Regions from separate parts of the Homo sapiens genome. Here regions 1, 2 and 4 are each reported to be linked to region 3. The links are microRNA targets in miRTarBase. Many come from high-throughput screens and were not tested one by one. Region 3 holds a microRNA gene; each other region holds the end of a gene's coding sequence.

Region 1 (7,121 bases), not on the chromosome of region 3:
TCCAAGGGGACAATTCATGGTGACATCCTGTGCCTTTGTCTCCATTACATACTAGGGGCTTTTGAGAGGACATGATTGAACCTTTAGCCACCCATTACCAGGCCATAAGGAGCCCCAACTGGACCCGACTGAGATGCAGCACATCACCCATCGCCCTGGAGTGGGAGCTGGAAGTGGAAGCCGGTTGAGACCTCAGGTTAGATCCCTCTTGGGAAGGGGTTAGTTCGTTTCACGAATGTACAAGAATTTTTATTTCTTGAAGCAGAGTTTCTGTCACCAGGCTAGAGTGCAGCGGCGTCATCACAGCTCACTGCGGCCTGGACCTCCCAAGCTCAAGCGATTCTCCACCTCAGCCTCCTGAGAAGCTGGGACTACAGGAGCACACCACCATGCCTAGCTAATTTTGTAGTTTTTATAGAGATGGGGTCTCGCTGTGCTGCCCAGGCTGATCTCAGACTCCTGGCATCAAGTGATCCTTCCGCCTTCACTTCCCAAAGTGCTGGGATTACAGGCATCAGCCACTGCACCGCGACCCGCATGTTTGCATAATTTGATCTCACTCCTGACTCCAGCCAAGTACTGGGGCAATGATGAGTGAGTGTGTTACCCAAGACAGACCCATCAGAATCTAGCCCTGGAAACTTGAAACTGAGACTAATATTATCTAGATCAAGGCAGGGACTGAGTTCATTAAGGCGGCTCCCACTCCAGGGCGATGGGTGATGTGTTGTGATCTCAGTTGTGTCCAGCTGGGGCTCCTTATGGCCTGGTAATGGGTGGTAAAGGTTCAATCATGTCCTTCCAAAAGTTCATAGTATGTAATGGAGACAAAGGCACAGGATGTCACCATAACACCTAGCACAATGCTTGTACCATTACAGCTACGCAAATATTTGGTGAATGAATGAATGAGAGGCTGATTTCCTGAATGGAAGAAATATGAAATTGAGTGTTCTGGGGTGATCACCATCCCCCAGCCATATGGACAAAAAAAAAAATCCAATCTAGAAACACAAAGAAGGCAGACAGTAGCCTCTGAAGATTTTAGTTTGTAAACCCTGTGTGACAGTATGGAAATGAGTGTTCTCAAGATACAAAGATAGCTTTTGCTACCTTTGGCATTCCTTAGATAGAAGCTAAAGGGATCTGTCTGTCTCTCTCTCTCTCCTTCTCTGTCTGAATTTTTCAGTTTTCAGCAGAATATGTGGTAGAAGATAGTCTCATTCCATCATGACCTCATCCTTTAAAGCAGAGGTCTTTATTAAATACAAATGAAATGAAAGAACATGATCTAGTAACAATGAACAGGAAGGTTAAAAAACAAACAGGATCAGTCATTTGTGGGGATCCCTGAGAAGTGAAAATATGGGGCTGCTTGTTCAAATACGAAGAACTTTAAAGCCGGGCGCAGTGGCTCCCACCTGCAATCTCAATGCTTTTGGGAGCCAAGGTGGGAGGATCACATGAGCCCAGGAGTTCAAAACCAGCATAAGCAACAGACCCCCCGCCCCATAAAAGAATGAATGAATGGATGGATGAATGAACGGATACATACATTTTAGGAGCGTTCTTCTCCATGACTACGAAATATTTATTTCTTGTAAGAATGTTCTACTTTATGCCGGACACAGTGAGTGGCTCACACCTGCAATTCCAGCAGTTTGGCAGGCCGAGGCAGGAGGATCGCTTGAGGCCAGGAGTTCTAGACCAGTGTAGGCAACACAGCGAGACTCTGTCTCTACAAGAAATACATATAAAATAATTTAAAATGGCACTAGCAGATCATTCTCCCAAGCATGGGGGCCTTGGATGCATGGAAATGTGTGCGACTACCCAGGCTGCAGGGCTGCAAAGCTGGCCCCATTAAAGAAGCAGAGGGAGATTGTCCAGTGATAAATTGTCCATTTATCAGTTGCTTAGTGTAAAAACCATACATTATTATCTTGATGAGAAATCAGCTGACCCCCTGCCCCTCAAAATGGCAGCATTCTGCCCTAGATGTCATCACCGTTGGGAACATTAGAGTCTTGCTCTGGGCAATCTGGTTTTAAACTTTATTTTCCATGTACAGTTTCAGATTATACAAAACATAGAAAATGGACTATTTTAAAGGTACATTAAGTAGAAAGTTTCTAACTACCCTAAAGTCACAAACCAAGATTCAAAATGAACCTCTAGGCCTTGCCCTAACATTTCCCCAACACCACAAAATTGTCCAACTTGCTCTATTGTAAGTAACCTTTAAACTATTAGCGAGTTTAGTAACATCCCGCGAGGCAGATTTTAAACTACGATACAGTTTCTATCTAGGCCACTGTGTTTAGTGTGTTTACAAACAGGCTTGGAGTTCTAGGTTTCTTCATCATCAGTGAACACAGAGCGTCCTAGAGCGCCAGCCTGTTCATGAGGGGTGTCCACAAAAGCACGCAAACTATAGCAGAGTGTGTGGGAGTGAATAGGTCTCCGATGTTCCTGTATTCAGGTATATATATATACACATTCACACAGACCAACAAGTCAAGCATTCTCCAAACTCATTTGAACAGAGACCCAAAATAATTTTAATGCAAATAACAAAATGAGTTAGTCTGTCTCCATCACATAGCCCCTCAATGAAAGAATTACAGTACTTTATAAAAATGTCATAAAATGCGCAAACTACAGTTCCTTCAAATACAGTTGATGCTATCTTTGGTCCTAATATGTGCTTCTTGGATGTCTACTAATTTTGTTGTTGTTATTGTTCTTGAATAACTGGTAATAAGCACCAAGTGAGGGCTGATTCTATCTACAGGTAAGAAGCTTGGATGTTTTCTCCCTGATTTTGTCATTTCTTTCCAACTTCCCAAATGCATGTCATACAGCAGGGAAGAGGCATCTCTCATGTCTCAAAAAAGCTTAATGGCACAGGTGGATGTGGGCACTGAATGTTGTACAGCAGTGGCAACCAGCCGGGAAAATCCATAGGATCATTTCAGACCGCATTCAACACAGATACTCATGTAGCCCCGACGTTTCTTGTGAAGGGAATTGATGTATTGCTTGAGGGGGTCGATCTCTGGTTCTAAGGTGTTTTGTTTGTTTCCATCGTGACTACCAGAAAATTATAGAAGGCCAGACGCAGTGGCTCATGCCTGTAATCCCAGCACTTTGGAAGGCTGAGGTGGGCGGATCACCTGAGGTTGGGAGTTCGAAACCAGCCTGACCAACATGGAGAAACCCCATCTCTACTAAAAATACAAAAATTAGCTGGGCATGGTGGGACATGCCTGTAATCCCAGCTACTCGGGAGGCTGAGGCAGGAGAATCACTTGAACCCAGGAGGCAGAGGTTGCGGTGAGCCAAGATGGTGCCACTGCACTCCAGCCTGGGCAACAAGAGCAAAACTCAGTCTCAAAAAAAAAAAAAAAAAAGAAAAAGAAAAAAGAAAATTATAGAAAAGCCACCAAGGTAGAAAGTTTCAAGGGAACTTAAGATTCAACTTCCTCCATGAGCTTGGGTAGCATCCTGTTAACCCTAGGGGTGTAAGCCACATTCTTGCCCACAATATGACTAGTGAGAGTATCTCATGGAGGCAGGAGGTGACATTTGTCCTGTCTCTGGCCCCAGGTCACCCTGTACTGCATTGGTGGCTTCTCCATAGGGAGGGGGTCCTATCTCATAGACTCCAAACTTCATGATGGCAGGGAGGATATCTGGATTTGCTCACCCCTGTATTTTCAGAGCCTCACACAGTGCCTGGAACATGGTAAACATTTAATACTATCTGTCAAAAACAAATGAATGAAAGAGCAGATGGAAAGAGCCAATCCTGCATTGAAGAGATATCCATGGTGGCCCTAAAACTACTCAAACCAGATGTCTCTTCAGCTCCACTGGAACTGAGCTGATGGCAAACCACCACTCCACTCAGCAGAAGGTCAAGTGCAAAAGTATTTAAATAGCACGAGGTCCCACACCCCATCCCAGGACAGCCCCCAGCATCCTGCTCCAACATAAGCAGAAAAAGACAATGAGGTGCAAAGAGCTTATCTCCTGGGATGGTTCCTGGGTGGTCTGCATTGCCACACAGCATCATGCTTTGATCCTGAAGGACAAGGCCCCAAAAGCCCTATTTCTCAGCACAGTCTTAAAATCACCTGGAAATCATTCACCCAGACCCTCTGAATCAGCCTGTCCCAAGCAGCACGGGAACCCCTAAAGCTTGAAAACTCCAGCTCTATGGGACCCTCTCACCGCATTTACTGTCGGGACCATGGGCCCCTCCACAGACATGTTTTCTGGGTGTTACACAGACAGGTACTGCCCAATAACTGTCATCTGCACGAACTGAATGGAGCTATATTTAGACTGATCTAAATACCTAAATGCCTCCAGGAGCATTTAATAATAGGCACGCGTAAAGCAGCCTCCCTACCATGCCACAGGCCTCGATTTTGAATCGTTTTATTTTTGAGACGGAGTCTCAGACTGTCGCCTGGGCTGGAGTGCAGTGGTGAATCTCGGCTCACTGCGACCTCCGCCTCCCAGTTTCAAGCGATTCTCCTGCCTCAGCCTCCTAAGTAGCTGGGATTACAGGCACCTGCCACCACACCGGGCTAATTTTGTTGTATTTTCGGTAGAGACGGGGTTTCACCATGTTGGCCAGGCTGGTCTTGAACTCCTGACCTTGTGATCCACCTGCCTCAGCCTCCCAAAGTGCTGGGATTACAGGTGTGAGCCACCGCACCCAGCTGATTTTGAATTCTTAGTGGTGTTCTTTGCAGCCTCCATCACAGTGTGTAATTAGTTTCTTTTCTTTTTTTTCTTTTTTTGAGATGGAGTCTCACTCTGTCACCCAGGCTGGAGTGCAGTGGCACGGTCTCGGCTCACTGCAACCTCCACCTCCCATTTCAAGTGATTCTCCTGCCTCAGCCACCTGATAGCTGGGATTACAGGCATGCACCACCACGCCCAGCTCATTTTTGTATTTTTAGTAGAGACAGGTTTTACCATTTTGGCCAGGCTGGTCTTGAACTCCTGACCTCAGGTGATCCACCCGCCTCAGCCTCCCAAAGTGCTGGGATTACAAGCATGAGCCACTGTACCCAGCCAGTTTTTCTAATTAAGTTTTAATCTGTCTCCTCCACTAGGCCATGAGCCCTAGGAGGAGATTGTCTCTAGAGGGTATCCCCTGTGCCTGGCACATGCATGCAAGTTATGATTTATGTTGATGAATGAATGAATGAATGAATGAATGAATGAATGAATGAATGGTGGATGGGTCCTCTGAGGCTCTAGAAATAGGGGTGAGAGGCCAGCCAGGTGTAGCATGAAGGGCTGGACAAGAAGGGAGAGGCCTTCTGGGATAAGATGGGAAGGAGGCTGTACCCCACACCCTGAAGGTGTCTATGAGTTCACATGGCTCAGGAATGGAGTTTTGGGGCCCTAGATGTAGACAGCTGTGGCGATGGAGGCCAAGGTTTTGGCCTGCTGTGGGGGTTGCATTCACCTCCCCATCTCCACATGACGATACCCCAGCATTTACGAGGCAGCTCTGCTGACCTGGCCCAGGCACCGTGGTCCCCAACTTCAACGCATCTGAAGCGTTGCCCAGGGAGCGCGTTAGAAATGCAGATTCCCTGGCCCCATCCCTTGAAGACTCTGATTCTGTAGGTCTGGGGTGAGGGGGGGGGCGCTGTAGGTTTTGCCTAAAGACGAGTCTAAATCTGGCACGCAGGTTAAGGATGACCATTCCTAAGGCAAGCAGGTGACACTGTCGGCAAATTGAGGTGAGACTTTTTCTGACCCACCCCGATACCGGAGGGATGGCTGGGCTCTGGTTTGGATACAGACAGAATGCCAGGGACTACACCTGCTTCTCACTTGGAACTTGGGTGAAACCTCTCAGGAAGCTGTCATTCTTCTCCTATACCCCACCTCACCCTCTTCCACCCACCACTAGCAGAGAGATTCGGGAGGGGCTTGGGCCAGCTGAAACCCATAGGAAGCACGTCCCCAGAGACCCGGCTTTCCCAGCCTCTCCTCTCCTCCCATCACAGCCCCATGGTTAAGAAATGTCCTGCCGAGTGCTTTTGGATTTGAGCATTGCTGGATTTTTGCTTGTGTCTTGTTGAGACTTTTGAGTGGGCAGCAGTTCTGAATACCAGCCTTCATAGTCTATTCTCTGATCTCAAGAATGCAAAAACTCTTCTCTCTTTTGGATTTTTTTTTTCTTTTTTCTTTTTTTTTTTTTTTTTTTTTTTTTTTTGGCTTTTAAAGGAAACAATACGTTTGCTAGAAAAACCTCAAAAAATAATGATTATATACAAAATGGTTATCTGAATGTGGATTCTGTACTGCAGCAGAAGCAACCCAGCTCCGGAACTCTATTTGCGCTTCCTCAGTATCAGGTACATCATGCCGCTGATGAAGGTGCAGGCGAAGGCCACCCACGCCAGGATGTAGGAGTAGCCGTAGCTGCCTTCTCTGGTCACGGGATAGAATTTCGCGTTTTTGTCGTGAATGTCTTCACGCCTGTCTGTATAAATGGAGGCCGCAATCATGACACACAGACCTGTCAGGAAGAAAGGTGAATTTTCAATAAATCATGGACCACAGTGCACCCTGGGTAGCCCAGGGGCATACGGCCAGAGTTGAAGACAAACTTCAGCTTTTATTCTTTGTTTATTATTATTTTGTTGTAGAGACAAGATTTTGCCATGTCACCCAGGCTGGTCTTGAACTCCTGAGCTCAAGCAATCCTCCTGCCTCGGCCTCCCAAAGTGCTGGGATTACAGACGTGAGCCACCGCGTGCAGCCTTAAGCTCTTATTATTAATAGGTATTTATTTTAGTCTATTGGAAAAATTACAACTGATATTTTGTGGAAGGATATTGTCACCTACCCTGTAGCTATTTTGCTTCCCATTCTTGCTAACTAAACCCAGTTTTGTTTGGGCAGCCACATCACCAACCCAGAGGGTGAACATAATTGGTCTAAGCCAGAGGTCCACAGACGTACCCTGTAAAGGGCCAGACAGTAAGCAGTTTAGGTTTTCTGTGGGCCATGGTCACACAAGTCTGCCACAGTAGCATGACACCACCTATAGACAATACAAAAATGAATAATAGTGGCAGTGT
Region 2 (7,121 bases), not on the chromosome of region 3:
GGAAAGGCAATCGTGTGCAGCTTCCTGCCCTTGCACAATCACGTGAGAATGGGCCTGGAACACTTCCTTACTGAGAGATAAGAGCACTACAGCCTGTGCGGGGCTTATCTCCATGAGCGGGAATATCTTGTCCTACTGCAGACTCAACGTGTACTCCTTTGTTCTGCTTAAGCTCATGTGTCAATGGTCCTCATACACACCCAGCTTTCTGCCTTTCAGACCCCATGGCGGAGACGGAGGGTCCTTCCACTGCAGCACAAAGTGGGGCACTTGCAGTCACATCGCCTGTGTTCACGGTGGAGCGGATCTACTGCCCTTGTAGGGCTGATGCATTGCAAGGGGCTGAACCTCCTGCACTGTCTCCTCTTGGTGTAAATAAACACTGTGCCACCTGAGCCTGATGTGTGTGTTGTCTGTCCTCAGTGACCTTGAGTCATGCACTGGTCTCTTCCCTGGGAGGCACGTATCTGCCTTTTGACCTTGGCTGCACAGCCTGGACACCCAGCGAATGGTGAAACAATCTCCGTGTTTTGCACCTTTTACTGTGGCAGCCAGTGCCTCCAATTCCTGAGCTTTGCTGGGACTTTGTAGGGCATTAGCTGTTTCTCCTCAGCAGAGTCATGCATGCTTAACCACTGGGATATGTTCTGAGAAATGCATCGTTAGGTGACTTCATTGTTGTGTGAACATCGTAGAATGCACTCACACAAACCTAAATGGTATAGCTTGCTACACACCTACGCTATATGGTGTAGTCTATTGCTCCTAGACTACAAAGCTGTACAGCATGTTACTGTACTGAACGTTGTAGGCAGTTGTAACACAAATGGTAAGAATTTGTGGTATCTAAACAAACTTAAATATAGAAAACAGTAAAATCACAGTATAAAAGATAGAAAATGGAATGTGTATATAGGGCACTTACCATGAATGGAGCTTGCAGGACTGGAGGCTGCTGTGGGTGAGTGGGGAGTGAACATGAATGGCTAGGACATTACTGTATACTTTTATACAACTGGCAGCACAGTAGGTTCGTTTACACCAGCCAGCGTCACCATAATCTCGCGAGTAATGTGTCACACTACAATGTTACAATGGCTATGACCTCCTTAGGTGATAGAACACTTTCAGCTCCATTATACAGAATCTTCCGGGACCACGCTGTACATACGGCCCATTGTTGACCGTTATGTGGGGCGTGACTGGCTTCCCTCCTGGAGACATTCACCACTGTACTTCTCCCAGTGTTGGTCTCATTGTTCTTGGCTCTGCCATGTCAACTGCCATCCTCTTGACTGCCACTTTCATATATTTTGATTCAAGGTTACAGGTATTTGGTCTTTTTTCCAAGATTCTATTTGTTATTACTATTGTACTATTGTGTCCTCAGCACCAACCACAGTATCTGGCACATAGTAGGGACTCAAACACCTGGTTTCTTTTTTCTGAGACAGGTTTCACTCTGTTGCCCAGGCTGGAGTACAGTGGCATGAACACGGCTCACTGCAGCCTTGACCTCCTGGGTTCAAGGGATTCTCTCACCTCAGCCTCCCAAGTAGTTGGGACCACAGGTGTGTGCCACTGTGCCCCGCTAATTAAAAAAAAAGTTTTTTGGAGAGATGGGGCCTCACCCTGTTGCCCAGGCTGGTCTCGAACTTCTGGGCTCAAGGAATCTTCCTGCCTTGGCATCCCAAAGTGCTGGGATTACAGGTGTGAGCCACCATGCCCAGTCTCAACTATCTGTTTTATGAGAGGAAGAATTTCTTAGGACCTACTGTAATTTGGGGCCAATCTTTTTCTGAGAATTTCCGAAATGTTCATGGTTGTGGTAGGGATTAAAGATATAGCAGGGATGGCCATCTGGGGGAAACTAGAGGAATTCAGGTAAGATGATGGTGGTTACCACTTCCGATTTGTCAGACCAGAGACAATTCATTATCTTGAGTGCTGTACACTTCCATCCTTGGATTGTTTTTATTCTTCTATCACTTCAGCTTCATTCTCCTCCAAGCTCATATTTCCAGAAATAAGTTACAGCCTCCACACCTGGGCATCAGCTGGTTGCACTTCTTCTTTGTGGTCCACTTGAGTGTGACTCTTCCATGTGTTATTTTGCAAGGGTTATCAAAATTTAGGTCATTTGGGAGAAATGGCATTTGCCATGAATTAGAAGGAAGAAGCTCATAAAACAGTTATAATTTATCAGAGAACTCTTCCCTGACTCACTCTACCCTTGTTGGGTCCTTTTATTAAGATATTCTCAAATCTTATGTATGCTTCCTGTGCAGCACTTGTTAGAACTTGTCACACAGGTTTTCAAAATATCTTTTGGTGGCTTTCATTAGACATTAAGTTTCTTGAGATCAGGGACCATGTCTGTCTTTTTTGCTATGTTTCCAGCACTCAGCACAGTACTCAGAACACAAAGTTGCTCAGTGGCTATCTGCTGAATCAATGAGTGTGGGAGCAAAGCCCAGGCTGCTCAAATGTATGTGCTGATGGCATTTATGTGCAGGTAAATAGCTCTTATCCACAGCTTACCTGATTGTACTGTCCAAGCATCAGCACCCTATGACTAAATAAGCAATCAGATGTATTTTATGGGGACTAATTTTCTGAAGTTGGCTCAGGAGGGAAAAAATGGAGACCTGACATGAAATTAATTTATAAATCAGTTTATTTACAGATTTTATCTTTCTTAAAGTATATTTCAGTTAACAAATCTATTTACACAGGTATACATGGGAATTCATCCCAGTTATTTTACAGATCGTACTTACAAACCACACCCTTAAGTGTTCGGTGCAAAATTGCACTGGATGTGACTATTGGCTGAAAATGGCCTGATGACCAGGCTATTTACACGCACACAGTAAACGGGTTTATTTTTTCATGTCTGCACAGTACAGTACACACAAGGAGGCTGAACCTCCCAGAGAATGCTTTGCAATGTGTTTGCCAAGAAGGCTTTGCAAAGTCCAGAAGGAAAAGCTATTAAACATAGGTTAATTAAAATGACAGTACCTCCTTTACATCAGTTTACATTTTTTCTTCACATTTTTATAATACAAAGATATTTTATTGAATTGCTGCACAACCAGTTGAAGATGATTTGTAAACATGTAAATTCCTACAATTTGCATTAAATGTCATTGTAGTTTCTATAATTTGCTCTTTGAATTAATGTTTTATTCACTAGTATTCTTAAGGTAGTAAAAGGAAGATGTAAGTTTGTATTTCTTGCAGAAAAGTTATGAGTCTCTAATGCTGTGCTACAGAAATTCTTTTGCGAGTACACACTTTATTCAAGTATTGCAAAAAGCTAAGGCCACTTTTTTTTCAAGACAAGAAACTGAACAAAATTGTTTTTATCAATAGGCCACAACACTCTTATGAGCAATGAAATCTCTTTTGAAAGATAATTTCTCAGAGACCTGTAGTCACAGAAGGAATTTTCTTTTCTTTTAGGTAAAAGAAAAACAAATTACCTTCCTTATTAACTACGTTTGAGCTCTCCCCACTTTTCCCTATGGTAAAAATTCCTGTGTAGACCTGAAGAGGGAATCTATACCCTGTACTTGTTTAACCCAGAGTTAACTACCCTGGATAGCACAAATTGTTTTGGACTCAGAAGTAAATCTGAAGCCTGTATGTTGGTTTACTGCTAAATTCTGATAGTGCTATTCTAAAAGATATTACTGCTGATGCAAAGATATTTTTCTTAGAGGAATTATGAAGGAAGAGTGAAAGAGGATGAGGGTGTAGGGAGAAGGAACAAAGATTAGAAAGAGGGAATATTTAGGTTCTTGATTAAGAGGCAGAGCTGATTTAAAAAGATACCAATATGGAACGAGTGGCTGGGTATCCACATCTATCTTTCTTAATCCTAAGAATAAAGCCATTTCAATTAGATCCAAATAGTTAATAAGAAATCTGCTAATTATGGATTCTTTTTTCTTTTTTTTTGCTACCAAACTACAGATAACCATTTCTAGAAAAGAATAAGACTGATCCATTTCTGCCTCTCATGTGGAGCCTAGGATTCTTCAGATAGTAAAGACAGTTGGAGTCTGTCAGGACAGCTACTGCCACATTCTTGGCAGCATTTCTTACCAGATTGCTGATTCCATGACTTGTATTTTTTTTTTCTTTTTCTGGAGTCATAATTTCAGAAAGAGTAAAGATAAACTTTCTTATTAAAAACTGGTTTTAGGTCCAAATAATGAAGATGTAGAAAAACAACCTACAGTCCCATTATAACATTTTGAAATTCATTTATAAAAAATTTACAGCAGCTGTAAAGTTTCAGTATCGTAAGGACAACGTGATCCTACAAACAGCCAAAGGATGTAGACAAGATGTTTTTCTGTCTTCCAAATAACACAAACTGAAAAGAAAAGCCTTTGCTTTTCCTTGGCCACATAAAACTAGTATTTCCACACTACTGGTTAATAACCCCAAGAAACCTTTGCTTCTCTTAGTCAATTTGCTCATTATGGCTACAAGACTACAGCTCAACATCACAAGCCCAGAAGAAATGCTGGTAAGACATCAATCTGAGCATTTCCCGAGACCCAATCACAACATTTCAGTGCTTTCCTTATTTGTCAAGAGCTATCATACCAGTCATTGTGCAAAATGCAAATATTCCAATGATTATTTCAGTACATTTCTTAAACGACAAGATGAAACCCAAGAGGAATGGGAGTGTGCATAGTGAAATATTTAAGATGCAAAGGCAAGTTTGGAGGGAAGATGCAGAAATAAACGAACGTGCACACTTAAAGATTATACCATCTTTGGGGTTTTTCTAATATACTTTGAAGCTATAACATTCCAGGATATTTGTAAATATGAATCCAGTAGATGTCTTGTATCATGCTTCTAACCAGGACCTTCAATATTAAGGCATTTACATTCACGCCTAAGAGTATCCACATTCTTCTAGATTACTTGAAGAGGGACAGGACTGATGAACGGAAACCAGTCAAGAAGGCAGGGTACTGAGGTCCCAGGAGAGCATCTCTTATGCTCTAATGTAGCAGCTGGAGTCTATAGATTTTTTTTCAGATGCAGGTAATAGTTGTGAGAAGCAATGCTGCAAGAGAGGCAGAGTTAAATTGTACAGTGTTTTTAAATCATTTTATCCCACTGCTGCTATTGCAGGTGATCTGGAAAAGCCCATCTTCGTTTCACTGAATTAAAATGACTTCTTCAATATGTGTATTGGTTTGTTAAAACCACAGGTTCCTGTGCAAAGACTATGAACCATAGAAGCTTCAAGATGGAGGTTTAACTATTACAAGATGAATCTTTCACTTCTGAATAGGGACACACATTTTCAACTTAATAATTTATCTTAAAATAAATTAAAAAATGTTCCATAGCGCAAAACAAGCACACAAACAATAGACAATATCTTTTTGTCTTTGGTGCACACACTCATTTCCTAAATCATTCAAGTAACAGCATCTCTGACTTCTTGGGGAAAGATGGGAGTTGAAGGTTTGCAGGCCAAAATGAATTATTTCCACTTTGCCATGCCTGGATGCCTGAGATGGTCCTGAGTATCTGTGATTCTGGGAGCAGCTGGTAGAGATTCAGAATGAGTAAGACAAGTGCAGGAGTAAACCAAGGGGTAAAAGAACCAGCCCTGCATTGGTCCTTTGAGCCCAGTCTTCAGTAGGGGCATTTCTTTGTTTTCATGCCCACACAGAGAACACTAAACATAATGCAGAGGTTTAAAATTCTTTAGATGGTGCTCAGAAAGCAAGGCTACCACTTATTCCTGTTAGCCTGACAGTCCACTTGGTGCTGCTCAACTACAATAATGGAAGAAAATGGTCTTCAAAAAGAAATGAAATAAACTCCAGAATGTGAAGTTGGCAGACATTATTGAGCTTGCCTATTTTAGAAGTGGTTAAGGGTTTAATACTGTTTAGAGACTATAATGTCCATTTATGACTTCCATGGTATAGACCAGAATTACATTTCAAAAGTGATGTGATGCATTTATCTATACCTCTCTCACTTGACTTCAGACTCAAAGAAGTGATACCCTAGTCTAAACTCAGAGGTAAGTCAGGTGTTTCTGGCCCTCTGGGACCTAGTAGGGGTGTTAGCAAAAGGTGTAGGATTACACTGTGCAACCCTGCCCACTGAAAATAACCCATTAATCCAGTGGATAGTCTCGAAAGGCAAAGGCTGTAATACCAGGTGTACCACATTGTCCTATGAACTCCATACTGGTAGTCTTTAAGAATAAGTACAAGGTCCAGAAGCACTCTTGCTATGATGGCGATGGGTGTACATCAGGAGGCAGAAAGGCCCAGGACTCACATTAGCACTCAGCGTTCGATTTATTTGCAAGATGTCACACAAGTAGCATTCTCCCCTGCTTTTCACTGATCTGATTCAGAACATCAATAGTATCTTTGATCAGGGTCTCAAAGATCCCGTCGGCTAGCTGCATTTTCACACACAACTCATCCTCATCATAGTTCACCCACTGTGCCTCCTCCTCATGGAGCTCCTGAACCTAGGATTTAGAAGACAATAAGGTTAGAAAATTCCTGTCATACAAAAGCTAGAAAATATAATTGCTGACTTTGTAGTCCTATCCATAGGAATACAGCCCAAGGAAATAAACCAGAGAAAAAAGATAATTCATATGATATCAATACCCCTTTTAAAATTGCAAAAAGTTGAAAAAACCTCAATTGCCAAATATCAAAATGACTTCAAAAATAACATTTGACAATATTCAAGTATTTCATATATATTAAAGATTACCAGTATGTTGTCAATGTCAACGTAAGGGAATATGTATTCCATAAGGAATTCCATAACATAAGAGAATAAGGAATTTAATGGGAGGAAAACACAAAATATTAGACAGAAATGTTCCTCTACTTACAATGGAGTTATGTCCAATAAATTCGCAGTAAATTGAAAATATCATTAAGTCAAAAATGCAGTGAATACACCTAACTTACTGAACATATAGCTTAGCCTAGTCCATCTGAAACATGCTCAGAGCATGTATATTGGTCTACAGTCGGGCAGAATCATCTGCATCACAGTCCACAGGAGAGTATCGGTGTTTACCCTCATGATGGTGT
Region 3 (7,121 bases):
TCCGGAAATGCAGGAGATAGCAGCATGAATTTCTCTTTCCATCTCTGTCTCTTTCACTCTTTAACTCGACTTGTCACACACCTTGCTGTAGGACGGGGGAAGGGAGAGGCCACAGCTTCCTCATCGCAGTTTAGTGACCCCAAAGGAAAGAGAAAAATTGCTTTTTTTTTTTAAACACCCATCTATAAAGACCCAGAGGAGCACTCTAGTCCAGCTCAAGTCACAGGTCCACTGTAGACCAACCATTTCAGCTTGTTAAAGCAAATGAAATATGGCCTGAGAAGGACTCCGTACTTTTATATTTGAGTCCTTGTGGACGAACCGTAACCTAGCTTAATAGGCACGCAAAATTGAAAACCTAACTTAGTAGTATGCACTTGTAACAATAGCTGAGTGTTGGCCAATCCCAGCGGCCATACTTCAACCACTCATAGACTGCTGAGTGTTCAAACTGTTCAAATACGGCAAACGCCGAGCTGCAACCAATCTCACTGTTTCTGTACCTCACTTCTGATTCCTGTATGTCACTTTAGTTTAGTTTTTTTTTTTTTTTTTTTTTGGAGACCAAGTCTCTCTTTGTTACCCAGGCTGGAATGCAGTGGCACAATCTCAGCTCACTACAACCTCTGCCTCCCAGGTTCAAGTGATTCTCCTGCCTCAGCCTCCTGAGTAGCTTGGATTATAGGTACCCGCCACCACGCCTGGCTAATTTTTGTATTTTTAGTAGAGACAGGGTTTCACCATGTTGGCCAGGCTGGTCTCGAACTCCTGACCTCAAGCCATCTACCTGCCTTGGCCTCCCAAATTGCTAGGATTACAGAAGTGAGCTACTGCGCCAGGCCACTTTACTTTGTCTATAAATTTGTTCTGACCCCGGGAGTCTCTCTGAATCTGTTGATTCTAGAGGCTGCCTGATTCATGAATTCTCTTTTTCTTTCTTTTTTTTTTTTTTTTTTGCTCGATTAAATTTAATCTAATTGAACTTGTCTTAAGCTTTCTTTTAACAAGCTCCATGATGGGCATCTCAGATTGGCCAGGCCTGGTCCACCTGCTGTGGCCTGGGGCTGGTACTGTGATTGTGAGGACCATCAGCACTGAAAGAATTGAGGATGGGCGGTTCACCTGTTCAGAAGGCGAGGGGGAGATGTCACACAGCCAAATGCAGCAGATGTCCTCCACCACGTGCATCCTGTCAGCACGCCCGCCTATGGAGGGCTCAGCCCTTTCATGCTCAGACAGGCCGGTCAGGAAGCCCCGTCACAGGGAGGCTCCAGGGTGGTGTATGGAAGGTAGTGGTCTGAATAGTGTCTGTTGAGCAAATGACAAAAATCAACCCCAGAGAAGCAGAAAACATCTAGGTGGCCCAGCCTGGTAAGTGGCAGGAGATGGTAGTAGAGCTGTCTCTGCCTGTCACCTTCAGCCTCTTCTTGCAAGCCCCTGGTGGTCCCATATTGAGGTAACAATGCCCATTCTTCTTCCAGACAGTGTAGAAACAGTGACAATGTGGTTATGGCCCCCTGGAAAGTGAGCAGTTGATGAGCTCTGCTTATGGCTGCTCTCCTCCATGGCAGAATGCATTCCTGCAGGATGAGGTCATGGAGCCAAGGAAGGTCAGGGTGTGGGGGGGCTTCCTGGGTCAGAGCTCCAGAGCAGTGCTGCTCCCCCTGCCCTCCTCCTTAGGTCTCCCATCACTGGTGGTCTCAGAAATCTCTGAAGATTTCAGAAATCTTGAATCCCTTCCCTGGTGTGAATGCAAAGGGAAGAGTCTGTTCCTGTAAAGTAGTTTGCAGATTGGTGGAACTGAGAGAACCCAGACCCTTCCCCGTTTCCCTCGACCTTTCCATCTCTGGACCCCATGCAGACTATGCTTGGGTGGTGACACAGAAGAATTTAGTGTTTGGTGGACCCGTTTCTGGAAGTGATGGATGCTGACAGCTGGCACTTAACAGTTATCAAAAATAACATTAACTGGAGTAGGCTCTGTGCCACTTAGAGCTTAATGACTCACTGACTTCACCCCAAATCCCCATGAACTAGCATTATTATTAGCCCTATGTTGCAGGTGAGGAGACTAAGGCTCATCCAGTTAGAACATGATGGCTGAAACCTACATTCAAACTCTGGTCTGTTTGAATCTAGAACTCTTAGCTTCCCCCCAGCGACTGTGTTAGAACAGAGGAATCATCAGTTCAATTTTCACCTCCCTCCTAAGCCTTCGTGGCTCTAGACGTATGGTTATAAAGGTTGTTCACTGCTCAAGGGCCCAGGAGGGTTTGGGGCTGGTGGATAGGGGCCAAAATACAGCCCAGGGGTGCCATTTTTCTAATTCTCACCAAGGCCCTATACTGACTAGCAGCGGCTCTACCCGATACCATCCAGGGCCTTTTCAGAATTCTGAAGGCACCCACGGTGCTGGCTACTCACACACCTGGCCCCCCTTAACCATGGCTGCCTTGCACTGTGACCCAATTGGTTCCCATGACAAAACCTGTTATTCCCATAACTCACCCAACACTTTTTTGCCCCTAGGCTCTTGCTCCTTTGGTTCCCTCTGCCTGGAATGGCCTTCTCTCCCGAGCCGCCTCGCCTGGTTCTATTAGGTTGATGCAAAAGTCATCGCGGTTTTAATGGTAAAAACCGTGATGACTTTTGCACCGACCTAGTATTTCACAAAACCTACATTTCCTTTAAAACCCAACCTGATGCCTACTCCTTCAAAATGCCTTTCATATCCCACAGTTCGACTTCATCTCACTCTGCCTCCTCTCACAGGGCTTTGTGTTCGTGCTGGATGGAGCCCATCATACTCAGCCTCGCAATAAAGGCCACCTATCTAGTGAGTGAGCATTTACTAGGCGCAGGACTCTGGGCTAAACGCTGTCCATACTTCATCTCCTTGATTCTTCACGTCACAGATGTCATTATGCCCATTTCACAGAGGAAGAAACTGAGGCTTGGAGGACTTAAAGCCTTGTTTCAGCAGGAAACGGAATAAGGCGTTCTGATTTTCAAGCTGTCTCCTATTAGGGCTGGTTTCCCCTAGATGTCATGAGTAGGTGTGAAGTGTGAGCTACTTGAAGGCAGAAGCCAGGGGGGTCCCCCGCAATCCCGGAGGCGGGCTTCTGAAAATGTTTAGCCCAGGAAGGAGGGCTGCCCTGGCCCGCAGCTTTCCGCCCCTTCCCAGGTGAGCTGCAACTCCAAAGCTCCCAAGCAGGCCCTTCACCCACGCGGGCCCCAGCAGCTCCTTGGGAAACAGGATCGCTGCTCTGAGGCCGCCCACAGAGAGACCCTCGGAGGGCGCCACGCAAGCGAAGGGCAGAAACGACTCGGGGGGCAGGGGCAGGGCGCTCCAACCACACCCAGGCGCCGCCAGCTTGTTTACGCCTCTCCGCCGCGTCCCCCCGCCCGCCAGTCACGTGACCGCCCGCCCCGCCCCCTCGGGCTCTCGCGTGGCTCCTCCCGCCGCGCCGGCCCTTCTTTTTGCCTCCTTCGCGGAGTCACAAGATCTCTTCGCAGCCTCCTTTCGGATCCTTCCGCCCGGCCCCGCCCCCCTCCATAAAAACCCTCCTTACTTTTTTTCTCGTCCAACCCACATCGTCAGTTATGAGTGGAAGAGCCTCTTCCTTCCGGCGGGGCTGCCGAGCGCGGCCGTCTATCCTTCCTTTCGAGAAGGAGGGGAGGTCCGGAGGGGGACTCTTTTTCGTGGCGGAGGCCGCCGTCGGCCTTGGCCCTTTCACGACGGGGGAGGTGCTGTACGTCCAAGATGGCGGCGCCCTGTAGGCTGGAGGGACTGTGAGGTAAACAGCTGAGGGGGAGGAGACGGTGGGTGAGTATGGGGGTGTCTCCCCCTCCTTTTTATGGGGGCTTCCTGGGGCAGCCCCGGCACCATGACTCCAGCCGGGGAGGCTCGGAGGGGCTGGAGCAAGAGACTCACTTGCTTGGTAGGGATCCCGGGGAAGGGGGGTTCGGAGAGCTCTCCCCTCCCTCTTATTACACGCTATCTCCGGCTGGCCCGGCCGGGACTGGCGGGTCCCTGGGGAGGAGAGGCGAGCCGGACGGAGCACTTCGCCCCTCCTTGGCCCCCGAGGGGACGGCTGCACCCTGGGCCTCGGTCCCTCGGGCAGGGGCGAGGTGGGCCCCTTCGTCAGTCCCTCACTTGGTGGGGTGACAGGTTCACGCTAGGTGCGGAGGGCAGGGTAGAGACGCTTGGCGGGAGGGGAAGGGTCGCGAGGGTGGGGCTGGTCCCAGAACTTAAAGAGAGGGGTCGGGGTATAGGGGCGTGGAGAATGAATGGAGGTCGCCTGTGGGGATCAAGGACTCGCCTGGATTCGGTGTCTCCGCTGAAATTTGCATGACTCGCTCTGGGTGTACTTGTGGGTGTTTAATTGGTGGTGAAAGACAGTTACCTTAAAGTGGGCAAAGGGGATTCCTAAGAGACAGCTATTTGCAGAGCCCCTCCTAGGCGTTCATTCATTCATTTGAGGAACTGGAGGATGAAGAGCCTGCAATCGGAGGGACCTTGTAGAATTAAAGCTCTTTCTTTGTGTTTCCTGTTAAAGAGTTTTGCTTTGTGTGTTTTGGATGTGTGGTGAGGACTTGGGAGGGGACGCGGTCCTCCTAAGAACAACAGCTAACGTTAATGGAGTGCTCTCTGTGTGCCAGGCACTGTGAAAGTGCTTGGCAGTCATTATCTCCTTTGGTCCTCACGACAAAGAGAAGAGGCAGCCACTGTTAACACCTCCAATCTTCTCAAATGAAGAAACTGAGGCCCGGAGAGAGCAGGGTACTTTGCCTAAGTTCACACCCCAATTGTATCTGAGCCAGGACTGGAACTGCTGGGATCTGACTGACTCCAAAGATATGACTCTTAAATTTATCTGTTATTTGATCAAAGCTGGCCTGTAAGTGATTAAAATTTATCATTTAGCCAAGGTTTATGCACGTGTGTCTGTTTAATGTTGAAGTGGGGGGATGCACTTGGCTTATCCGCCTTAGCTTTTGTTTGGGATGGCAGTGTTGTGCATGTGAACTTGTTAGTCTAAATTAGGCTAAAAAGTATTTGATAGTTTAATAAAACTGATGAGTTTACTGAAGAAAGAAGTCCTGCTAAAATCCTTGCTGGCTTTTTTTTTTTTTTAAATAGAAAGCATACAAATAACACTTCACGTTGCATAGAGTAAGCTATAAAAGTGCTAAAATAGAATAATACTCTTCTGAGATACTTTGATTTATAATTTTGGGATCAACTTGGAGTCATCTGAATTCAAACAGGCCGGCAAAGTGGAGCTGTAAATTTCAGGAAGCATTATAAAACCTAATCTTTGGGGAGCCTTTGATTTACCGAGCAACCACCTGTGATTCTTAAATTGAACATTCCTGAGTAAATCTGGAATATGCAAATGTGAAAACTGATTTAGGGTTGTGTAGGGAAATGCACCTTTAACAGTCATGCATCAGGCAAATGAGGCTCCTCAGAAACAGTGAAACATTCTTTGCTATTGCCCTAGGGAGCTGCAGAATCTTCCTCTAACCACCTGGTGTAAACTTAAGGGGTATTTATAGAAGATGTAAACGGAAAATATCCTCTTACTAAAGTTAATATCTTATCCAAAACACTCTTATATCACGTGCCTAGAAGGGCAGATGATGTAAACTTTCTCTGCTGCATGCATTTCCTGGTGTCATAAACACTTGGTACGTTCCTAAATTCCTGGTTAGAAAGCAGGTGGCTACCAGCCTTCTTGTTTCCATAAAATTAGAGTGCTTCAGGTCCTGTGACTCAGTTGTCCTCTTCCTCACTGGGTTAAGAGTAAAAACTGATACTGCTACTGTTGTGGTGTAATATGATGCCTTCTGTGCATGCCTGGTTTCATTCGTGAGATGAAACTTAACAGTCTTACTAGGGCAAATCTAATATATACCTCTATATGTAATGTTTGCAGAATAATGAACTTGGTGGAAACGAGATCTGAAACCCTAGTGCTCATGAGAACCTTGATGTACAGATATTTGGCACTATACTAGGTAGACCTACATATTCGGACACCTTGTATATATATTTTGGAAGAAGACTGATTCTTATGTGCACCGGAGGTTGAGGACCACTGGCTTCAAGTATCATTCTGGCTATTTTCATTTATTATTTATCACAGAGGTATTTCTTAAAATAGCTTGTAGCCTTTTATTTGTGTAGTGGTGGGTGAATTTTGGGCTCTGAATTAGAGCTGACTTGTTCTTATAGCTCTGTCTTCATTTGAAGTTTGTTTGGCTACAGGTATGTTTATTTCTGGGTTCCAGGGCCATAGTGAACTAAAATTAGCTTTTCCTGGAATTAATTGGATATTCTTGAATGCCGATGAGCCAAATATAGCAATATCTCAACCATTTCAGGCTTTTCTAGAGAGTCAGATAGCTTTTGACCTTCAGTGGGTCACTTAAGTTCTGTGAGCCTGTGTCTTCATCTGTGAAGTAAAAGTTGGAATGTAAATTAATGAGTATTTCTAGGCCTACATTTCTGTGATTTAAAGTCCTTTGGGGTGTCATTTAAATATTCTGACTAAATCGATTGAGTCAACCTGTTAATGGTTTTATAAAAACCAAGCAAATTGGTGACTTTGAGCCTACCCTGTTGGGTGAAGATCTGTTTATCATTTATCCTTTCCTTTACATCATAATACTCTTTGAAAAGGTAATTCCCTATAAGTTTCCCATATTATAAATCTCTGAAAGGTTAGTCTTTGCATTGGTTTTGTCATTTAAGTAGCTGAAGGCGTGAAAGAAAAGTGTACTTAATAGCGTTAAAATCTGTGGCTGTTTGCTTGAAATGTGTATATGTAGTATACACTCAAACACTGAGTTTGTTTTTTTTAATCTCAGATCATGAATTGGTAACTAATATAATTTGGGTAGCATGAAATACTCATTCTCCATTTAAATTCATCTGAAAGAGGTAAACTGTCAGCAGTTTGAGATTATTCTTTCTCTGGTTTACTTTTTAAGACTGTAGTTGCTAGAAATTAGTAACTTTATGTCTGTTTTCATGGGAGAGAATAAAAATGCAAATTTTATATACTGTGTATAAAATACACTGTCTCAGGACCTTGTCAGTTTCTTCTTGTCCT
Region 4 (7,121 bases), not on the chromosome of region 3:
CCCCAGGCTGACCTGCCTGAGGCCTGCTGGTCTGTGGTCTGTGATTTTTTTGTCTACCTTCTCTCCTGGCCGCTAAACGCATGGCAGCTGCATTTGCTAAAGAACACAGCGCCACCTGGTGGAAAGATAAGAGTAATGCCTTACTTTTGTACCTTATTTTTGTTTTCTGACCGCTGATTGATTCCACATAATTCTGTAAAGGTGTATTGAGCCCCAATTATATTCAAGACACTGTTACAGTCACTGTGTATGTCACAGTGAGCCACACAAAGTCCCTTACCTAATGAAACTTATAATTTGAATGGGGGAAGATGCCAATAACCAACTAGACAAATATATGCCAGGTGATGAGCTATGCACTCATAAAAATACAGCAGGAAATGAGAGACAGGGAGTACCAGAGGTAGGGCCTGGGAAGACGTAAGGTTTTCCATTCTGTAAAGGGAAGTGAGGACATATGAACAGAGATAAGAAAGAATTCAGGGAGGGAAGAACATTCCAACACAGGAAGCAGCAAATGCAATGGCCAGAGCCTGCCTGTCACAGTCACGGATGAGCAAATGGACCTGTGTAGAGCAGGGCAAGAGCAGGAGATGAGGTCAGGCATGAGGAGGATGGCCAGGTGTGGGCTTGGGGAGCCTCGTGGGCCCAGCAAGCCCTTTGGCTCTTCTTCTGAAAGACATGAGGAGACAACAGAGGAGCTACCAAACTGAGTTGGGTTTTTAAAGGCTCACTGTAGCGACTGGGTAGAGAACAAACCACAGGGGTGGGGGGTAAGGTAGCAGAGAGACCAGGTAGGAGGCCTTGGTGCAAATCCCAGGAGAGCTGATAGTGACTTGAAGCAGGGTTGCTGTAGAAGAAAGGGTGAAAGGGGATTGCGTTTGTATACATTCTTGATAGATCCTCATGTTAATTCTGAGAGATTGGAGGACAGACACTGGATCAGATGTGGGTACAAGCCCAGAGCTGAAAAGCTAGTGATCAACTCAGGAGCCCCCACTTCCTGATGCAGCATCCGATGCTCTTTCCAATGCCCAGCCTGCCGTTGGCCCTCCCTCAGCCATGCCCACCCTCTTCCCCAACTCACCCTGTGTGTGTCCTCCTTCCCGCAGGTCAACATTGACCATGAGACCCACGAGCTGACGAGGATGAACCTGCAGACTGCCACAGCCACATGCTTTGATGCGGCTCAGGGGAAGACACGTACCCTGATGGAGAAGGACTCCTACCCACGCTTCCTGAAGTCGCCTGCTTACCGGGACCTGGCTGCCCAAGCCTCAGCCGCCTCTGCCACTCTGTCCAGCTGCAGCCTGGACGAGCCCTCACACACCTGAGTCTCCACGGCAGTGAGGAAGCCAGCCGGGAAGAGAGGTTGAGTCACCCATCCCCGAGGTGGCTGCCCCTGTGTGGGAGGCAGGTTCTGCAAAGCAAGTGCAAGAGGACAAAAAAAAAAAAAAAAAAAAAAAAAATGCGCTCCAGCAGCCTGTTTGGGAAGCAGCAGTCTCTCCTTCAGATACTGTGGGACTCATGCTGGAGAGGAGCCGCCCACTTCCAGGACCTGTGAATAAGGGCTAATGATGAGGGTTGGTGGGGCTCTCTGTGGGGCAAAAAGGTGGTATGGGGGTTAGCACTGGCTCTCGTTCTCACCGGAGAAGGAAGTGTTCTAGTGTGGTTTAGGAAACATGTGGATAAAGGGAACCATGAAAATGAGAGGAGGAAAGACATCCAGATCAGCTGTTTTGCCTGTTGCTCAGTTGACTCTGATTGCATCCTGTTTTCCTAATTCCCAGACTGTTCTGGGCACGGAAGGGACCCTGGATGTGGAGTCTTCCCCTTTGGCCCTCCTCACTGGCCTCTGGGCTAGCCCAGAGTCCCTTAGCTTGTACCTCGTAACACTCCTGTGTGTCTGTCCAGCCTTGCAGTCATGTCAAGGCCAGCAAGCTGATGTGACTCTTGCCCCATGCGAGATATTTATACCTCAAACACTGGCCTGTGAGCCCTTTCCAAGTCAGTGGAGAGCCCTGAAAGGAGGCTCACTTGAATCCAGCTCAGTGCTCTGGGTGGCCCCCTGCAGGTGGCCCCTGACCCTGCGTTGCAGCAGGGTCCACCTGTGAGCAGGCCCGCCCTGGGGCCTCTTCCTGGATGTGCCCTCTCTGAGTTCTGTGCTGTCTCTTGGAGGCAGGGCCCAGGAGAACAAAGTGTGGAGGCCTCGGGGAGTGGCTTTTCCAGCTCTCATGCCCCGCAGTGTGGAACAAGGCAGAAAAGGATCCTAGGAAATAAGTCTCTTGGCGGTCCCTGAGAGTCCTGCTGAAATCCAGCCAGTGTTTTTTGTGGTATGAGAACAGGCAAAAAGAGATGCCCCGAGATAGAAGGGGAGCCTTGTGTTTCTTTCCTGCAGACGTGAGATGAACACTGGAGTGGGCAGAGGTGGCCCAGGACCATGGCACCCTTAGAGTGCAGAAGCTGGGGGGAGAGGCTGCTTCGAAGGGCAGGACTGGGGATAATCAGAACCTGCCTGTCACCTCAGGGCATCACTGAACAAACATTTCCTGATGGCAACTCCTGCGGCAGAGCCCAGGCTGGGGAAGTGAACTACCCAGGGCAGCCCCTTTGTGGCCCAGGATAATCAACACTGTTCTCTCTGTACCATGAGCTCCTCCAGGAGATTATTTAAGTGTATTGTATCATTGGTTTTCTGTGATTGTCATAACATTGTTTTTGTTATTGTTGGTGCTGTTGTTATTTATTATTGTAATTTCAGTTTGCCTCTACTGGAGAATCTCAGCAGGGGTTTCAGCCTGACTGTCTCCCTTTCTCTACCAGACTCTACCTCTGAATGTGCTGGGAACCTCTTGGAGCCTGTCAGGAACTCCTCACTGTTTAAATATTTATTTATTGTGACAAATGGAGCTGGTTTCCTAGATATGAATGATGTTTGCAATCCCCATTTTCCTGTTTCAGCATGTTATATTCTTATAAAATAAAAGCAAAAGTCAAATATGACATCCTGTCTTCAAGTGCTGTGTGGGTCAGGGGAAAAGGGGAAGTGTTGTGGAGAGCTCTGGGGAGGAGCTGGCTTTTGGGAATTCCACAGGACAGGCGAGTAAGCTTCCATGGCACAGGCAGAAGTACAGGGAGAGCTTGATATTCACCTGGTACCTGCCAGAGTCAAGAGAAGGGATAGGTTCTAACGAGGCTGCTATGATCAGTGACTTTTTAAGCTCGTGACAGCCCCACTTGTGTTGGGCTGTTGTGTGGATTGGACTGGGCTCAGCCCACTGTCATTTCAGAGCCCGTATCTTTTGCCCACCTGGCTGGGACTCGGCATGAGCCATTTCCAATTCTGCCTGTAACAGTGCAGGGGTCAGTACCCCTTGGTCAAGTAGCAAGACATCATCAGTTAGGTGGTGACTTTTGTAGGATTTTTACTTTTAAAAGTAATTTGTAATTAAATTCAATTACAAATCTTTTGTAATTTATATTCAAGAAATTATTATTCTTTTTATAATTTCATAGAAGTATCTGAGATGAGGTATATGAAGCCACTCTGTACATGAGGCTGCTCCATTCCATGGGCCAAGGGAATAAGGGTTGAACTGTGCTTGAAAGAATTTGGGGGTACGGAGACAGGCGCGGTGGCTCATGCCTGTGAGCACTGAGGGAGGGAGGCTGAGGAGGGTGGATCACTTAAGCCCAGGAGCTCAAGACCAGGCTGGGCAACATGGCAAAACCCAGTTTCTACAAAAAGTCAAACATTAGCAGAGTGTGGTGGCACATGCCTGTAGTCCCAGCTACTTGGGAGACTGAGGTGGGAGGATGGCTTATGCTGGGGAGGTCAAGGCTGCCATGAGCTGAGATCACTCTACCGCACTCCAGCCTGGGGGACACAGTGAGACCCTGGGGGTAGGTTTGCAAGGATCAAAATCTGTTCTTCCTCTGCTAATTGCCTGCTTGTTCTCCTTTTTCATCCTACTGAATCCCTCTCATTTTTTTCTGATTACGACTACTTAAAAAAATGTTTTCTTCTCTGTTGAATGATCTGTTTATACACAGATCTGGACCTTAAATGAACCTTTATTTCTTCCCTATTGATAGTCTGAGTAAAGTGATCAGACTTCAGGAACATGGGGTAGAAATCCCCATAGAATCACATCTTAAGCACAGATCTAAGGAGGGATTCTGTGGGTGACACCAGGGAGGATCCTGAAATTAAGGGCCTGGGAAGGAAGACAGGGACCAACACTGTGGCAGGCCCTGAGCTCTGTTAGTCCTTACAACAGCTCTGTGGAGTGGGTCTGAACACTTTATCATCCAGAGAAGGAAACAAGCTCTGAGAGGGAGGGACATGCTTGGGGCAGCCAGCCAGTGAGTGGCAGAATGGGGATCTGAACTCAGTTATGCCATGGGGAGTCCAGTCTGTGAAAGATGGGTGGAGGAATGTGACTGATAAGGGAAGGAAGAGCGGAGGACCCAGAAAGACAGGGAGGTACTAACACTCGCCCTTTCCTACTGCTCTCCTTCCATCTTTATGCCTTTAACATGCATGTATTGAGTGCATCGAAATCCCTCAGACCCAAATGCGTTGGGTCCAGCTTCTGCACAGGCTCACCAAGGCTTCCTTAGAGGACTCTCTCATCCTCTCCAATCAGATACCACAATTTCCCGGCGGGTCTCCCTACCCCAGCCTCTCCCTGTGCTGGTTCATTTTCCACACTGTGCCAGTCTTCAGCTCTAAAGCACAGATCTGAGCACTTTGTGGCTACGTTAGAACCCCTCAGCGGTTCACTTTTGACTCTAAAATAAAGTCCAGCTTTAATCCTGACACACAAGGGGGTCTCTGACCTGACCCAAGTCCCTCTCCAGACGTATCTCCTGCCTGGACAGCCTTCATTCTCAGACTTTTCCCTTCTCTCTCTCTCTCTTTTTTTTTTTTTGTGGCTACACATGCTGTTCTCTCTGCCTAGAACACCTCTTTCTCCTCTTTTTTAGAAAAAATTGGGGGTTGAGGTGCGAGGAGGAGAATGCCAACTTTCAAAATCCAGCAAAAACATCACCTCCTCAGTGAAGCCTTCCCAGATGTCCCTGTACAGAGTTAATTGCTCCCAACTTGCATGATTCTAAGACACAGTGTTCTTACTTTGATTGTAGCACATATGGTATTCCTCCATAACTTCTTTCTTCATGGCTTTTGCTCTCCTATTAAACTGAGCTCTTCAAAGTCAGGGTCATATTATTCACCTTGGTGAGATGGGGCAGAACAGACTACAGCAAAGCAGTTCTCCAGTCCCAGCTGTGGAGCCGGAATGTTGGGTTGGAATCCTGGCCATTCACCTTGGAAAGTTGCTTAAGCCTCAGCTGTAAAATGAGGATAATAAGAGTAAGCGTCACAGGGAACACTGAATGAAATAAAAGTGTGCGGCACAATGTTAATGCCTCATGACTATTGGCTATTATTATTATCTGATTCCCAGTACTTAGCACAGTGATTTGTATACAGTAGGCATTAGTCAAGTCAAAAAGTCTTTTGACTTCTTGAATAAAATGGCAGGATCAGAATTTCAACTCAGGATTCTAAATCTACTTTTTTTTTTAGCTGCTTCAGTACCATATTTTGTCTGATGTTTACAGCATTCCAGAATTTCAGAAAAAGAAATGGAAGGCTGGAGGCATTAAGTAAGCCAGGGTATTAGAGGGACCATGGGATTCCTGGAAACCAGGTCAGCCAACGCTGTTTTCAAATATGTGCCCTGTGACTGTGCGAGGCTGCTTGTCTCTCACCCTCTACTGCCTCACTGTGGCCATGCCAGGCAATGCAAGCTTTTAAAGTTTGGCTTCTTCCTTTGGAATTATACATCCAATGGCTTTCATTTGTTTCACTGTAGTTTTATTTATTAATGCATTTTAATAAACATGTGAAATTTTAACAGAAATGAGAATTATTAATATCACTACTGAGACAGCACAGCAGGTATAGGAGTTAAACCGAGATTCTTTAGTTTATAGGGATGAAATTACTTTTAAAAATGGAAGCTGTAAGGTAGAGAGAAAAAAGGTGTCAGGGGGCCGGGCGCGGTGGCTCAGGCCTGTAATCCCAGCACTTTGGGATGCTGAGGTGGGCAGATCACCTGAGGTCAGGAGTTCAAGACCAGCCTGGCTAACATGGTGAAACCCCGTTTCTACTAAAAATACAAAAAATTAGCCGGGCATGGTGGCACGCACCTGTAATCCCAGCTACTCAGGAGGCTGAGGCAGGAGAATCGCTTGAACCCAGGAGGCGGAGGTTGCAGTGAGCCGAGATCGCGCCATTGCACTCCAGCTTGGGCAACAAGAGCAAAACTTCCAATTAAAAAAAAAAGTGTCAGGGCCTATTGCCTTGCTGACTGCAAAGTAATTTACTGTCACGAATCTTTTAAATTGGTCCAGTTATTCAAATTGCTTTAAGGAAGAAAAGAAAGACTTGAAACTTACATAACTGAGGTGTGCTCCTGAGGGTAAGAGATATACGGCGGTTAGGCGCTGGATAATGGAGTTGGAGTCCCCATCATTTAGAAAAGATGTTTCTTGATTCACAGTGTTGGTGATTTTCAAGCTTTGATCTGTAACCTGGAGAATGATTTAATTTAATCTTTGAGAAAAGCAACAATGTGTGGATTAATCTTATGATTGTAATGGGATGCCACTTAAGGGACAGTTCCGTGCCGGGGAGGAGAATTGCCTTAGCTCAGTTAATCTCACAGTTCCAAGGCGCAGCCTCACAGGCAGCGTGGTATAACCTAATCATGGAGTCAGCAGGCTCGGAAGTTAGGCAACTGAATTAAGTTCCACATCTGCTATTTATCAGCTGAGTAAACTGCAGCACATTACTCAATTTCTCAGAGCCTCACTTTTTCCTGTAAAATGTGAATAACAATAATATTATCTTCATAGGACTTTTGTGATGACAATGAGAACATTTAGGAAAAATATTTATCATAGCACTTAAAAGTAAGTGTTCAAAAATGGTAGCTGCTTGTATGTGGCAGGCAATGTTCTAAGTCCTTCGCGTATGTTAATTTCTGTAATCCTCATGATACTCCTATGAGTTAGCTACTATTATTATCATCCTCATTATATAGACACAG

What was found. The annotated mature microRNA hsa-miR-548aw reads GUGCAAAAGUCAUCACGGUU and lies in region 3 at 2,636-2,655, opposite strand. An mRNA with a match to its seed (bases 2 to 7 or 8) in the 3' UTR can be bound and repressed. Matches are read on the target gene's strand: a 7mer-m8 pairs with bases 2 to 8, a 7mer-A1 pairs with bases 2 to 7 and ends in A, and an 8mer does both.
Region 1: miRTarBase lists EMP2 as a target of hsa-miR-548aw. Seed matches in the 3' UTR shown: 7mer-m8 at 6,180-6,186 and 7mer-m8 at 3,926-3,932.
Region 2: miRTarBase lists CEP350 as a target of hsa-miR-548aw. Seed matches in the 3' UTR shown: 7mer-m8 at 4,633-4,639, 8mer at 3,313-3,320, 7mer-A1 at 2,970-2,976 and 7mer-m8 at 2,804-2,810.
Region 4: miRTarBase lists RGS16 as a target of hsa-miR-548aw. Seed matches in the 3' UTR shown: 7mer-A1 at 2,935-2,941.

Annotation. Positions count from the first base shown.
Region 1 is chr16:10,526,537-10,533,657 of GRCh38, forward strand. EMP2 (epithelial membrane protein 2) reads right to left here. Exons shown (of 5, transcript NM_001424.6): 5 at 1,886-6,556. The coding sequence ends at 6,369. LINC01290 (long intergenic non-protein coding RNA 1290) reads right to left here and starts at 1,662. Exons shown (of 2, transcript NR_149081.1): 1 at 1,556-1,662.
Region 2 is chr1:180,110,414-180,117,534 of GRCh38, reverse strand. CEP350 (centrosomal protein 350) reads right to left here. Exons shown (of 38, transcript NM_014810.5): 38 at 2,660-6,538. The coding sequence ends at 6,374. Among named protein-coding and RNA genes, the nearest start is that of QSOX1, 41 kb to the left of the region's middle.
Region 3 is chr9:132,941,248-132,948,368 of GRCh38, reverse strand. It overlaps MIR548AW (microRNA 548aw), which reads right to left and starts at 2,662; the gene lies at 2,598-2,662. It overlaps TSC1 (TSC complex subunit 1), which reads left to right and starts at 3,753. Exons shown (of 23, transcript NM_000368.5): 1 at 3,753-3,826. It also overlaps a transcript of GFI1B not described here. RefSeq lists enhancers at 3,036-3,175, 3,536-3,835, 3,148-3,881 and silencers at 3,356-3,435, 3,966-4,025, 4,086-4,145.
Region 4 is chr1:182,594,505-182,601,625 of GRCh38, reverse strand. RGS16 (regulator of G protein signaling 16) reads left to right here. Exons shown (of 5, transcript NM_002928.4): 5 at 1,113-3,003. The coding sequence ends at 1,334. Among named protein-coding and RNA genes, the nearest start is that of RGS16, 6.3 kb to the left of the region's middle. RefSeq lists an enhancer at 93-142.